2 separate regions of the Homo sapiens genome follow, and region 2 is linked to region 1. Evidence: fine-mapped QTL for protein levels in blood plasma. Region 1 holds a variant in brackets. A gene starts in the other region. All regions are shown on their forward strands. Region 1 overlaps C4BPA (complement component 4 binding protein alpha). Region 2 holds the start of C1QL2 (complement C1q like 2).

The links. PIP is the chance, under the fine-mapping model, that this variant and not a neighbour inherited with it causes the effect. Protein levels are from antibody-based Olink assays in UK Biobank. Linkage for the fine-mapping came from a reference panel and not from the study's own genotypes, which makes the PIPs less certain.
Region 2: it holds the start of C1QL2, and the variant in region 1 is fine-mapped to the plasma level of the C1QL2 protein (UK Biobank, PIP above 0.99).

The regions. Positions count from the first base shown.
Region 1 is chr1:207,117,891-207,120,803 of GRCh38, forward strand. The region is part of intron 4 of C4BPA (complement component 4 binding protein alpha); the gene reads left to right. Among named protein-coding and RNA genes, the nearest start is that of C4BPA, 15 kb to the left of the region's middle. The variant G/A (reference allele first, on the strand shown) is at 1,263.
Region 2 is chr2:119,157,356-119,160,268 of GRCh38, forward strand. It overlaps C1QL2 (complement C1q like 2), which reads right to left and starts at 1,396. Exons shown (of 2, transcript NM_182528.4): 1 at 231-1,396. The coding sequence starts at 914. RefSeq lists an enhancer at 1-574.

The DNA.
Region 1 (2,913 bases):
TTTATGCCAAACTGGTCTATTTTGGCATATTCTGCTACCCTTTGCTATGCTTTCCTCAGTTCGTCTTAGTCTTTTTTTCCTTGTTTCTTCATGTGTGTTTCAGCTTTCCTCACATAGATTTTGCATTTCTTGAAGAGTTTAAACCTCTGGCAAAACCAAACAAAAAATGTTTTTGGTATTTTAAATGGATTATTTATCCAATTTGTATTGTAACTAGTTTATCTATCATCTATCTATCATCTATCTGTCTGTCTGTCTGTCTGTCTGTCTGTCTGTCTATCTATCTATATCTATCTATCTATCATCTATCTATCTATCATCTGTCTATCTATCTATCTATCTATCTATCTATCTATCATCTATCTACTATTGATTTCTGCATGTTAGTTTGATATCTCAGCCAACTTTCTAAATTTATTATGCATTAGTTCATTCTCATGCTGCTATGAAGAAATACCCAAGACTGGGTAATTTATAAAGAAAAGAGGTTTAATTTACTCACAGTTCCACATGGCTGGTAAGGCCTCAGGAAACTTACAATCATCGCAGAAGGCAAAGGGGAAGAAAGGCACCTTCTTCACATGGCGGCAGGGAGGAGAAGTGTTGAGTAAAGGGGGAAAAGCCCCTCATAAAACCAACAGACCTCATGAGAAACTCACTCACTATCACGAGAATAGCATTGGGGTAACTGCCCCCATGATTCAATTACTTCCCACTACATTCCTCCCATGACACATGGGGATTATAGGAACTACAATTCAATATGAGTTTTGGGTGGGGACACAGCCAAACCATGTCATATTATTTGTAAAAATTTAAAAAAATTCTTTCAGTTGAATTCTCTTAGGATTATCTGGTTTGTAATCACATCATTTCAATGATTCTTTTACCTCCTACTTCCCAATTTTTAGATTTCCATTTTCTTTTTCTTATCTACTTATGTTAATTATGTCAGTCAGGATTTACCTGGAGAAATAGAACCGCAGGATTTATTGTAGGGACCTGACTTGACATAGGTGTGGGAGATAGTTAAATGGTGTTTACAGGAGGCTGTTCCTTCAATGTCTGTTGCTGTGGCCTGAAGTAAGCAGGGCAGGGACTCAGGAAGGGAAGATAGACATGAACTGAGTGCTTCAAGGACAAACTGGAACCTGCAAAGATGAGCGAGTAAAGCCCACCATTGTAAACTGGAATTCATCTTGTTCTTTCACTGCCCCTTAGCCTTCAACTTCAAAAATGGGTATGTCCTGTAGAAGTTGTCC[G/A]TCACAGTGCTAATGTACTTGGATCAGAAGCCAGGGTACATGAAGGAGGAGATCCTGCAGGAGCTGGCTCTGCTGTGGCCTGGTTGAGCCCTCTACTAACAAAGTGATAGAACAGAGAAACAACAGTGCTTGTGAACTGCAGTCACATCCTGTGCTCTGCCCTGACCTTTCTAGCATATGGAGTATGGCTCTACTAATTCACATCTACCGTCTTTTATGGGCCATACTAACTTGGCATTATGTATGGAAGATAATTCTGGGAAACATAATTACAGCTTAGCTAAGTTGACACAACATAAATCTACCACAGCTCACTCCTTGTCAAATGTGATATTTGTATACACTAGTTTTAACCATACTTAGCTTAATTTCCAAATAAAGTCAATAGCAAAGTAATACTCACATTTTACATAATGCAACTATCCCTCATACACCCAAAAACATGGAAATTCTTTTCCTAAAAGAGAATTCCCTTTGAGCTGAGTCATATCTCCCCTTTGATATTCTATAACTTAAATATTGAGATGTAAGGTAAGCCACTACAAACACATCTTATACAGTAGGGGAAGGAAAGGGGTAAAAAGAAACACAATTAATGTAATGTCCATTTATATTAAAATAAGAAAGAAATATTCACAACTTTTATGGTCCTTGTTTATGCAACTGGTCATGTGGTTGTAGCAGATATTTATAACGATGTTTCTGTTACTTATTCCATATTCTCTTTGCCCTCAGCAAGCACTTCATCTGTCGTTGGTTCCTTGCCCAATGGGGTCACCTAAACTTTTATTCTTGAATGGTCTGGGCCATCAGCAGTCCTGCCTGATTTGGGTTATTATAGTTTTTTGTTGATTTTAATTATAGGGCATTGGAGTGTAAGGGGGTGCACCCAGTATGTCTGGGTGCCCTGCATTCCAGACATACTCATCTTTACCATCACTGTGCAGAAGCAATCTAATTTTTCCCTTCATTATCAGGATTAGTCACACCAACCATCAAAGTGGACTCCTTCTTTGCCTTACCTTCACTTGCATGAGGGTCCAGAGTTGACAGGTCTCAACCTCCAAGCTTAATTTAGGGTTTTCAGGTAAAATACAGGATGCCCAGTTAAATTTGATTTTCGGGTAAACAACAAATAATTTTAGTGTATGTTCCATGCAACATTTGGATCACACTTAAACTAAAAAAAGTGTTCATTGTTTACATGAAATTCACATTTAACTAGGCACCCTGTATTTGTATTTGCTAAATCCGGCAACTCTAATTTTTGGAACTCTTGCTGCGTCCCCCAGTAGAAGCATTCTTCCACTGAAGACTTCCAAACTGACTGGGCCAGGTGCAGTGGCTCACGCCTGTAATTCCAACACTTTGAGAGGTTGAGGTGGGAAGATCACCTGAGCCCAGGAGTTCAAGACCAGCCTGAGCAACATAGCGAAACCCATCTCTAAAGAATAAAAAAATTTAAAAAACAGAAAATAAAAGAAATAAAAAGACTTCTAGATTAACCAAGAATGTTACTTATTTTTATGTTTTAAAATTTACAGTTGTTTTATGGCGCATCATGATATACAATCAACTTTCATTAATATTTCAACAGGCACTGGAATGAAGGATTTTCTTTATTAGTAGTATATAGAGTTTGCTATATACA
Region 2 (2,913 bases), not on the chromosome of region 1:
GTAGTTTAGGTATGGGGGTCTCTGGGCTCTCAAGGCCCAACATTTGGCTCTACGTCCCGGTGAGCGCGGCCTCGGCGCATCGGGAAGCGGAGATACTGTGGCACCGAGGCGCGTTCATTCCCGGGGCTCGCAGGGTAGCCCGCGGGTGGAGAGAAAGGAGGCTGGTTCCCTGGGAGGTTCAGGGCGCGGGCGAGGGTTTACGGGGGCCGGTGAGTGTAGGGGTCACTGACCTGCCCGTTCTTGCAGAGGTCCGCCCACATGCTGGTGCCGTCGCCGCCGCGCATGAGGATGTGGTAGGTGAAGAAGTAGATGCCGCGTACCTGGCAGCTGAACTTGCCCGTGGTGGGGTCATAGTGATTGCCGAGGTTGGTGACCACGTCATCGAACTTCAGCACCTCATAGCCTTCGTGGGGGCTCTTGAGACCCACATAGAAGGCGATCTTGGGGCCGCTGAAGGTGGCGCTCAGCGCACTGGTCACTTCACCCTCGGAATCGCCACCTACCCCGGCCCCGCCGCCCACCACCCCGACGCCGCTGGCCGTGCCCGCCGTCAGTTGCAGCCCTGGCAGCCCGGGCCGCCCCGAGTCGCCCTTCTCTCCCGGAGGGCCCCTGGGTCCAGGCGGGCCCGGCTCTCCAGGGGGCCCCCGCGGCCCTGGCTTGCCCGGTCGCCCCGGGTCGCCCTTGGGTCCCTGGATGAAAGGAGGAGGAGGGTTGGCGCTGAGGTCCTGCATGACTTCCAGGGCGGCGGTGCTGGGTCCGGGTGGCTGCGCCTTTGCACCCGGGGGCTCCCCGCCGGGCGCGGCAGTGTAAGGGTCGCAGATCATGCGGCAGGTGCCCATCATCTCATAGTGCGCGGCGCCTCGGGGCGCCGCCTGCAGCAGCAGCGGCACGGCGATGAGCAGCCCGAGCGCCATGGCCAAGAGTACGCCGACGGCCGCCAGGCAGGCACGCCGCCGCCGCTGCCACAGCCGGGAGGCGACCGCCACCAGCTCCTCCTTGCCGCCCGGGGAGGTAATGGTGGGGCGGCGCGGGCGGCCCCGCTCCCCGCGCTCGGGGACCGGCTCCGCGGGTCCTGGCCGCGCCCCCGACGTGGCGACCCCCAGCCCCGGCTACCCAACTACTTCAGCGAGAGGCGCCGGGACCTCTGAGCCTGGGCCCACCGCGCTGGGGCTGGTCGGGAGAGCCGCGGACGCCCGCGCGCATGACGTGGGGCACACAAGACGAATCCGGCGCCCCGAGGGTCCGGCGCCGGCCAGGGAGTGCTTGCGCTGGCCGGGGAGTCTGCTTGCGGCGTCCGGCGCTGGCTCCGCGGCGCTGCCTCCCGCCAGGCTCCGCTCCGCTGGGTTTAGTGGGGCTCCTAGCGCAGTGAGGGCGCCCCGGCTCCGCGGCGCGCTCTGCTGTGCTCTCTCGCTGTTCGCTGGCTCCCGCGCGGAGGGGGGACCCCGCTACCCTGACGTAAGGAGTCCGGGGCTGAGCGGCGGAGGCGGCGAAGCAGCGCGCGCTGCCATCACTCGGGAGACGGAGCCCTCATGTCATCAGCCTCCTATCTGGCGGCGTCCTCGGCAGAGGCGGTGAAGGCGCGGTTCCCCCTGGCGGCTCCCAGGAGCCACAAGTGGGCGCAGCGGGCGCGGTCCCAAGCCGGGGCACATCGGACACACCCACCCGCGGCCACACTCACGCGCCCCCCACCGATAACACACACAGACACCCACGCACGCAGTGGCGGGGCACGCACAGCCACCCCCACATGGCCACGAAAGCAGCTGGAATCCAGGTGTCAGCAGGGCTCCTCTGGGGTCACCTAATCCATCCCCTGGCCTGCAAAGAGGATCAAACCTCAACCCACCGAGTCCAGGAGAGTCCCGTGAGGTCCAGCGGGAAGGAGTTTCTGAAAGACCTCCTGAGTTATTTCTTCAGAATTGAATAGATCTCGCTTCTGGAAGATCTTTCGCAAACCTAGACTAAGGACTCCAGACTCTTAAACAGGCTCCCGTAGAGCACCCCACTAACCTCTGAGGTGACTCTAAAAAGCCCAAGGCTCCCAATACAAGAATATTTGCGGCCGGGCGCAGTGGCTCACGCCTGTGATCCCAACACTTTGGGAGGCCGAAGCGGGCAGATCACCTGAGGTTGGGAGTTTGAGACCAGCCTGACCAACATGATGAAACCCCGTCTGTACTAAAAACACAAAATTAACTGGGCATGGTGGTGCATGCCCGTAATCCCAGCTACGCGGAAGGCTGAGGCAGGAGAGTCGCTTGAACCAGAGAGGCAGAGGTTGCGGTGAGGCGGGATCGTGCCATTGCACTCCAGCCTGGGCAACAAAAGCAAAAGTCCATCTCAAAAAAAAAAAAAAAAAAAAGGAATATTCGCCTCAGACCTTTTCTTCCACCAGAAAATGGCTGGCCCTTGTCCTCTGCGTGAAGCTGGTGTAGAAACCAAATGCTTGATGCCGGCACTTGGCAGTGATCATGGTGCACTCAGCTTCTACTCCAAGCCCGGCCACTGCCAGGCAGATGCATGGGCACATTCCCTTGGACATCCCCAGCTTCCTCCTCCTGAGATGGGTTTAGTTATTTTAGAAAATAGTCCAAATAGTCCAAAGCCATTCTGAGCCAGTCTTGAATAAACCATGGCCTCAGATGAGAGCAGAATAGTCTATCTCCAATGTAGCATGTGAGGCTAAGGAAGGATGAGAGGCCCGCCGGTGTGGGAGAGACTTCCAGCGGAGAAATCAAAGCCCCAGCTTCTGCTCTTGCCCTGAGTAGCTGTGTGATTTTGCCAGGTGGTTCCTGTCCCTGAGACTCAGTTTCCTTAAAAGGCCGCCTCCTGCCCTAGCACCCCCAACATGGGAATCACACCAGGCCTGTCCTGGGGGGAGAATCTAAGGGCTGGTGTCAGTGTTTGGTGTAG